2 separate regions of the Homo sapiens genome follow, and region 2 is linked to region 1. Evidence: fine-mapped expression QTL. Tissue or cell type: testis. Region 1 holds a variant in brackets; the other region holds the start of a gene. All regions are shown on one strand. Distances are from middle to middle.

Evidence for each region. PIP is the estimated chance that this variant, and not a neighbour inherited with it, causes the effect.
Region 2: it holds the start of ALDH3A1, and the variant in region 1 is the best candidate, but not a certain one, in a credible set for the expression of ALDH3A1 in testis (GTEx, PIP 0.85).

The regions. Positions count from the first base shown.
Region 1 is chr17:19,487,492-19,491,653 of GRCh38, reverse strand. No RefSeq gene overlaps it. Among named protein-coding and RNA genes, the nearest start is that of TRW-CCA2-1, 19 kb to the left of the region's middle. The variant C/T (reference allele first, on the strand shown) is at 2,445.
Region 2 is chr17:19,746,563-19,750,724 of GRCh38, reverse strand. It overlaps ALDH3A1 (aldehyde dehydrogenase 3 family member A1), which reads left to right and starts at 2,427. Exons shown (of 11, transcript NM_000691.5): 1 at 2,427-2,466. RefSeq lists an enhancer at 191-470.

The DNA of each region.
Region 1 (4,162 bases):
AACTGGCCAGGTGTGGTGGCTCACGCCTGTAATCCCAGCACTTTGGGAGGCTGAGGCAGGTGGATCACCTGAGGTCAGGAGTTCAAGACCAGCCTCAACATGGAGAAACCCCGTCTCTACTAAAAATACAAAATTAGCCAGGCGTGGTGGTACGTGCCTGTAATCCCAGCTACTCAGGAGGCTGAGGCAGGAGAATCGCTTGAACCTGGGAGGTGGAGGTTGTGGTGAGCCGAGATTGCACCATTGCACTCCAGCCTGGGCAACAAGAGAGAAACTCTGTCTCAAAAAAAAAAAAAAAGAGTATAGCTTAAACAACAAAAATATTCTGCCCACATGGATAATTACTAAGTGTGACCTCAGCCACTGTGGGGATAACAGGAAACTCACTTTACACCATGTCCTAGCATCGGCCTGTGACGTAAGCCTAATTATGGCTGGGTCCTCAAGGACACTGCCTCGACAGAACACGCTAACGTGAAATTTGCATGCTGAAACCTTTACATATTCAAACCTTCCAACTAGCTCTGTGTTTCCATTCTTCGATATGAGAAGAAAACCAAGGACTATGACACATCCCAAGGAAGTGTCCATAAAAGAAGGAGATCAGCAACCTTTGCTGGGTCTCAGAAAGGTAACCCACGCCAAACTCTGTGAGGAAGATGGAGTGGCAGAGAAGGTTGCACATGTGTGGCGGGGAGTGGGATGGAGGAAAGAGCAAAATACAGCATCCTATTTTGAAATATGGAGCTATGAGACCGGGCGCAGTGGCTCACGCCTGTAATCCTAGCACTTTGGGAGGCCAAGACGGGCGGATCACGAGGTCAGGAGATCGAGACCATCCTGGCCAACATGGTGAAACCCCGTCTCTACTAAAAATACAAAAAATTAGCTGGGTGTGGTGGCGGGCGCCTGTAGTCCCATCTACTCCTGCCTGTAATCCCTGATACTTGGGGGGCTGAGGCAGGAGAATGGCATCAACCCGGGAGGCGGAGCTTGCAGTGAGCCGAGATCGCACTACTGCACTCTAGCCTGGGCGACAGAGCAAGACTCTGTCTCAAAAAAAAAAAGAAAGAAAGAAATATGGAGCTATGTACCAAAAGAATCTGCAAGGAAGGCCGGGTGTGGTGGCTCACACCCGTAATCCTAGCACTTTGGGAAGCCGAGGCGGGTGGATCACGAGATCAGGAGTTTGAGACCAGCCTGACCAACATGGTGTAGTGGTGCAATATTGGCTCACTGCAGCTTCCACCTCCTGAGTTCAAGCAATTCTCCTGCCTCAGCCCCCCAAGTATCAGGGACTACAGGCAGGCATCACCACCCCCAGCTAATTTTTGTATTTTTAGTAGAGACGGGGTTTCACCATGTTTGTCAGGCTGTTCTCTAACTCCTGACTTTAGGTGATCCACCCACCTTGGCCTTCCAAAGTGCTGGGATTACAGGCATGAGCCACCACGCCCGGCCGACATTTTTTTCTTTATAAATTATCCAGTCTCAGGTGTTCATTTATAGCAACACAGGCCAAGACAGCCCCTATTCAGAAATGTTTCCCATTGTTCTTCCCCAGCTTCATTTGAATCTCAGGGGAGTGGAAGTGCAGACATGGGTGCAGACAAAACACACACAGAGAGGGAAAAGCATCAAGAGTTTGGGAGATGGAAGACGATTCAGTGCTGTTCTTGCCAGTGACTTTCCCGTGTGGCAGGGCGTTCAGCTCCCTGCTCTGCTTTCGTCTTTTGTCATACTTATTTGGTGGCTTCGATCCATCCATTCTAAGATTTGTTCTCCCTGTGCCATTTGCTGTCCAGTCATCATTTGTGCTGCTCGCCTGGCGGGATTTTTCTCCGTCTCTTACTCTGGTGGAGTATTTAGCCAGACCCTGTTCCATGTTGAGCCGTGGGGGGTTCAGGAGGGGAGCATTTGGGCTAAGAGCCTGCAGCACACCAAGAGCTGTGGGGCTTTCCCTTCAAGCATCCGGAAAGGAAGTGCTGGGATTAGGCTGGAGCCCATCAGGCCCAGAGGCCAGAGACAGGAGGGGAGGCATCATTGCCCAGTGTATCAGTCACACCTGCTGTCCCCAACCCTCACCCAGCAGGGGTTTGGTGCTGCTCACTCTTGTTAACACCCACATTAGTAGCCTGTGCCTGTGCCACGGATTCCTGCTGGCAGGGGGAGGGGCAGGCAAGGCTGTCCCACGGCATGGCTGAGCAGAGCCCAGAGCAGAACAGAACTCTCTCTCTCTCTCTTTCTCTCTCTCTCTCTCTCTCTTTCTCTCTCTCTCTTTCTCTCTCTCTCTCTCTCTATATATATATTTTTTGAGATGGAGTCTCGCTCTGTCGCCCAGGCTGGAGTGCAGTGGCGCGATCTCTGCTCACTGCAAGCTCCGCCACCCGGGTTCACGCCATTCTCCTGCCTCAGCCTCCCGAGTAGCTGGGACTACAGGCGCC[C/T]GCCACCACGCCCGGCTAATTTTTTTGTGTTTTTAGTAGAGATGGGGTTTCACCTTGTTAGCCAGGATGGTCTCGATCTCCTGACATTGTGATCCGCCCACGTCGGCCTCCCAAAGTGCTGGGATTACAGGCATGAGCCACTGCGCCCGGCCAGAACTCTATATTTGTTTTTTAGAGATGTGGTCTTGCTATCTATATCGTCCAGGCTGGAATGCAGTGGCTACTCACAGGCATGATCACAGATCGCAGCTCACTGAAGCCTTGAACTCCTGGGCTCAAGTGATCCTCCTGCCTCAGCCTCCTGAGTAGCTGGGACTACAGCACTTACCACCATGCCTGGCTCTAATATAATAAATGTTGGCGGCAGCTCTGACAAGTGCTGGAGCGGCTCCTAGCCCCACCCTCCCAGAACACAAGGGCGACTCTGTGGCCTTTTCCTTGCTCTAAGCCTCAGCCTTCGGTCTACCTGACCACCATGCCTGCTCCCAGAAGCCATGTTCTAAGCTCTCCTCTGGCGAGGTGCCTCCCAGGCTCAAGCAGCTTCCAAGTCCCCATTGACTCTGGTCCAAGTCTCAAACACATCCATAGCCCTGGGTTTGCTGGCTGGGGTTTCATGGCACTGCCTGGCCTCTCCCTCCCAGTCTGGCTTCCCTTTTCCTGCGGCCCACCACTCTCCCTGCATCTGTCACACTCGTCTCCATACACCCCTGCTGAGACCCCTTCTCTCCTGGCCCACCAGTCAGAATGGAAGTTCTACTGTCCTCCAACTTTTGAATTCCAACCTGGCCTTTACTCAAGCCCACGCCGGGGAGCTTTTCCTGACTAGGAACTCCTTGAGCCTAGCCTTATACCGAGAATTCCCTGCGACCTCCACAGACTAAGTGCTGATGTAATATGAAAGTTGTGCAGTTGTCATCCCACGGACTGTTTGTAGCTCATTGCAGGACCAGGCCCTGCTCAGCCCGAGGAGCAGTGTTGAATGGTGGGAAAATGGGTCAAGGTTTAGGACTCTGGTTTGGCTCCTCCCACTACCTACCATGTGTTCTTGGACAAATCTCTTCTTCTCTCTTGGTCGTGGTTTCTGCATCTGTAAAGTCGGGGCAGAGAGAACTGATTGAATCAGGTGTTCTTGTCAGCCTGTACGTTATAAGTACTTGGGGAGTTTCAAAAAACAAGATAAAACTGAATATCCCAACTACAACTCCAGACCATTAAAATCATTTCATAATTTTATGAGGGTAGAGCCAGACATAGTTTAAAAAATATTCCCGGCCAAGCGCAGTGGCTCACGCCTGTAATCCTAGCACTTTGGGAGGCAGAGGCAGGTGGATTACCTGAGGTCAGGAGTTCAAGACCAGCCTGGCCAACATGGTGAAACCCCATCTCTAGTAAAAATACAAAAAATTAGCCGGGCATGGTGGCAGGCGCCTGTAGTCCCAGCTCCTCGGGAGGCTGAGACACGAGAATCGCTTGAACTGGGGAGGCGGAGGTTGAAGTGAGCCGAGATTGTGCCACTGCACCCCAGCCTGGACAACAGAGTGAGACTCCATCAAAAAAAAAAAAAAAGAAAGAAAAAGAAAAAATGTTCCCAGGTGATTCCAGTATGCAGCTAGCTTTGTGAACTATGAGAATAGTCTCCAGACCCTTCCAGCTTTCCCGGTCTCCAGATTAACATCTTTGCTGGAGGAGGCCGAGTGACCTAGAGGGCCCTACTTATT
Region 2 (4,162 bases), 260 kb before region 1:
GCCTGGGCAACATAATGAGACCCATCTCTACAAAACATTTAAAAATTAGCCAGGCATGGTGGTGGGTTCCTGTAGTCACAAGGTGGGAGGATCGCTTGAGCACCGGAATTCAAAGCTGCAGTGAGCCGTGATGGCACCACTGCACTCCAGCCTGGGCAACAGAGCAACACCCTGTCTCAAAAAAAAAAAAAAAAAAAGAAAAAAGAAAATCTGAAAAGCAAGTATCTGCAAGTTTCTAGCACAACCCACACTCCCACACTTTTGCCACTACTGAAACTATAACCAAAACCCAAACACGCAAACAAGGATTTTGTTCTTCGTAGATTTGAACTGCTTTTAGGCTCCTTGCTCTGACGCTTCCACCACTACTGCTGCCACTTTTGATGACACCCACACCACCTAACCTTTCCAGGATGCCCTCGGCCCGCCAGGCACTGTTCTGGTCACTTCGTGTACTCAATGCTGTGTTGCTGGCTTTTGCTAGTTGCTTCCATGGTTCTCCCAGGGGAGGGCCGCTGCCACAAGAAGTCAGCTCCGAATGGCCTTCGGCCTTGCATTCTGCCCTCTACTCAAGATCCAAATTCCCAGGAGAGTCAGGGAGGCCTCATGGGGAGCCCACCCCAACCCATGGCTGGCCTGGAGAAGGCACCTGGTTGATCATCTCACCAAGTAGGAAGGGGTTGCCTGCAAAGATAATCAGCTGCTGCCACCAGAAAAGGGGAGAGGCTGGCACAGGCTCGGTCTTCTCCCCTCTCAGGAGGCACCCCACTTTGCACCTACCACCCAGTCCAGCCCCTGCACAGGTGCGAGGTCCTGCAGATGCTTCTTTCTGCTGTTTCTGGAATGTTTCCCATTCTGTTAGTCTTATTTGGGGGTCTCGTCATTTCTTGCCTGCATTGCTGGAAGCTGCAGCCTTTGGGCTAGACCTTTCTCACACTGTGCCCTGTCCAGGGGGTTCTCTAAAACAAAAAATAGCAGACATTTGTCTGTCTGATAATCTCCTCAGCGCCCTGCACCCCCACAGCCAGCCTGGCCCACAGGCCTCCGTGAGCCCCCGCCCCAGGAGAGTCATTCACCTCCACACCTCCTGCTGGCAACAGTGGACACATCGCACTTTTTCGTGACATAACGTTCCCAGCCTCTGTGCCTTTGCTTCTGCTCTTCCAGCCCCCTTGCTGTTCCTTGCCCAAATGCTTCTCACTCAGCTCAGATGATGTTCCCTCCCACGGACTCTCACCCCAGCCCCTCTAGCATCCTCTGCCTACCTGGTTACTACAGTGTTCACATTATTTTGAAATTTCCTGTTTATTTTGTCAGTCAATAAATATTTATTGAGCATCTACTATAAATGCTGTATGGAGGTTACAGCAGTGAACAAATCAAATTCTAGCTGTCAGGAGTTAAGGGACAGGTAGCAAACAAGATATAAACGCTCCAGAGAAAAAATAATGGAGGAAGACGACAGCATTGTGCTATTTTCCACAGCACATTGGAGCGTAGCCGTGTGGGTGGATGTAGGGGAAGGGGGCTCCAGGTGGAGAGAAGCAGGAGGGCCAGAGCACATCCTCAGGACTCGTAGGCCAGGACCGGAACCTTGTGTTTTCCTCGAATGAAATGGGAAGCAGGGACCCCATGCTGGTAAGCAGTCTGCCTGCAGGCGGGTGAGGGTGGCGGGAAGCGCCTGGTGAGAGGGGCCGAGAGTCTGTTCCACACCTGCCTCCTCCCCACAGCGTGGTGCAGAGCAGGAGCCCAGCGAACATTGATCAGACAGCGTGGGAACGGCTTTTCCAGACTCCTTCCTTCCCAAGCATCTCTGGTTTTCGGTGACCACACAGACCCTTGGCCCTCTTCTCAGCTATTCAACGAGAGAGCAGATTTATGGATTGGAGACCCCCATCAAAAGTCCCCAGCCTGTGGCTCCCCAGGGTTAGGATCTCTGACTCAATGGGGCCCTGTGCACACTGGGGGATGTGAAGGGCCCGGGGCAGCGGTGGCTGGGGGTGCGTTTCGGGGGAGCTGCATGCTCTCACTGTGGTTCGTGGCTGAGCCCTGCCGATCTTATGTAACCAGAGAACTCAGAGAACCGCATCTGGCAGCGGCAAGTCTGGAAAGCTGGAAGAGCTCCATGCCAGGCTGAATCAATCAGCAGCCCCCACGCCCAGGGCAAACATAGGCTCTTTTGAAGATTGGAGATGTGCCCTGCCCAAGCCTTCAGAAACATTCTCGCATTTCAGAAGTGAACAAAAGCAAACAGCCCGGGACCTAATCCCCAAAACCTGGGCTGTAGGGAGCAGAGGTCCAGAGGACGCCACACCCCACATTTGAATATTTTTTTTTCTTGTCACGCAAACTTCCTGGGCAGGAACTCCAAGGGCTCAATGGACGGGAAGCAGGGTCCTTAAATACGTCCCCTCTTGGCTCTTGCCGTTCCAGGAGCCCCAGTTACCGGGAGAGGCTGTGTCAAAGGTAATCCTCTTCCCTGCATTCCTTATTTTTTCTCTTGTCTAGGTGGAGTCTGCACTCAGAGCCGGGGCCCTAAGTGTCAAGAGTCCTACATCATCTCTCCAGGGGGTCCCTGCCTCTGGGACCATCATCTCTGGAGCATCCTCCTGGACCTCTGGCAGCTCTGCCATCCCCCAAACCAGGAGGCAGAGGTCCCAGGGATCCGCGGAGCAGGGACACCAAGGTGGCCGTGGAGTGAGAGGCCCTGATGGGCCGTCAGACTCCATGACTGGAAGGAAGGCAGCAGAGCCGAGTGCTAAAGGCATGAGCTGCTGACAGAGATGCATGTGGGTTCAAACCCTGACATGCCACCTGCTAACTGTGAGATCAGATACAGCATTAAACGTTTCTCAGTCTCCCTTTCCTCATCTGTAAAATGCACTCATAACCGTTTCTTCTTCATGGGCATCACTACAGAGCTTTTGTGAGGATGGAAGGCAATGAGGAGGGGAGGAGGTGTCACTGGGGGGCAAAGTCAACACTGGCACAGGTGAGAGGAGCGGGGTGCAGGAATGTGGGGTGTGAGGCGACGGGCTCTGGGGAGGCCCCCAGTGCATGCTGCAGCAGCTCCCATTTGGGTGCAGCTGCGACGTGATGGTGTCCACTCATCTCTGTGAAGTGGCACCTTTGTTAACCTGTCTCTCGGGGAAGTCCTGGGAAGGCCGTCCAGCCCAGAGACCACAGTTCCAAGTGGCGATGCTGGGGTGCAAGGCCAATCCCGTCCCACGCTCACCAGGCTCTTCCCACCTGGGCTGCCTGCCTTGGTTTGACCGTACAAGGCTCGGGAGAGAAGCGGGACCTTCTCTCCTGGGTTGTGGTCAGCAGGAGGGGCCTGGCCCATGGGACTGAGGAGGTCCCAGTGAGGGGGCTTTCCCAGCCTCCTATCAGAACATAGGGAGGGACCATGGAAGGGCCAGGCTTAGAGCACCCTCAATGCCAGCAGGTCCCTCCTCCCTGTGCAGAAAGCCTGGGATTAGGGGTCAGCCTATGGGGAGGGGAGGCAGAGGAAGGATTGGAAGCCACTCGCTGGAATGTAGGCAGGACCATATATCTATATACAATATAATTATATATTACATATGATATATAGGGTTTTTTAAAAAAATGGAAATACCCTATTTCTGCTGATGTTAAAAGTTATGCCGGGTCTGCAAGTGGGCTGAGTATCTCAGGAAGGGGAGTAAGGAACTGGTAACAGTGGCCCCTCTGTGGGGCAGCACCTGACAGCTGATGGAGCAGGGAGGAGGGAGGCAGACTTTTTTCTGTGCCCCTTTGCTATATTTTACATTTTGTTTCATGAGCATGTAGTGCCTATCTTAAAACGCACCAAAATTTAAAAAATACAAGCTCATTGCAAAAAGTCAAACATTGCATAAGAGGAAAACAGATCATCAATAATTCCACCCCCATCAGTTGTCTCATCGTGTCGGGGGCTACCGTTCTAGTCCTTTCTTGCATGTTAGAGCGTGCACGCCCACACACACACGCACACGCGCGCACACACACGCACATGCACACACACGCACGCACACACACACGCACATGCACACACACGCACACACACACATGCACACACACGCACACGCACACACACACACGCACACACACACATGCACACGCCTGGTACATCTGTTGTTCTGTAACTTGTTTTCTGTTTTTC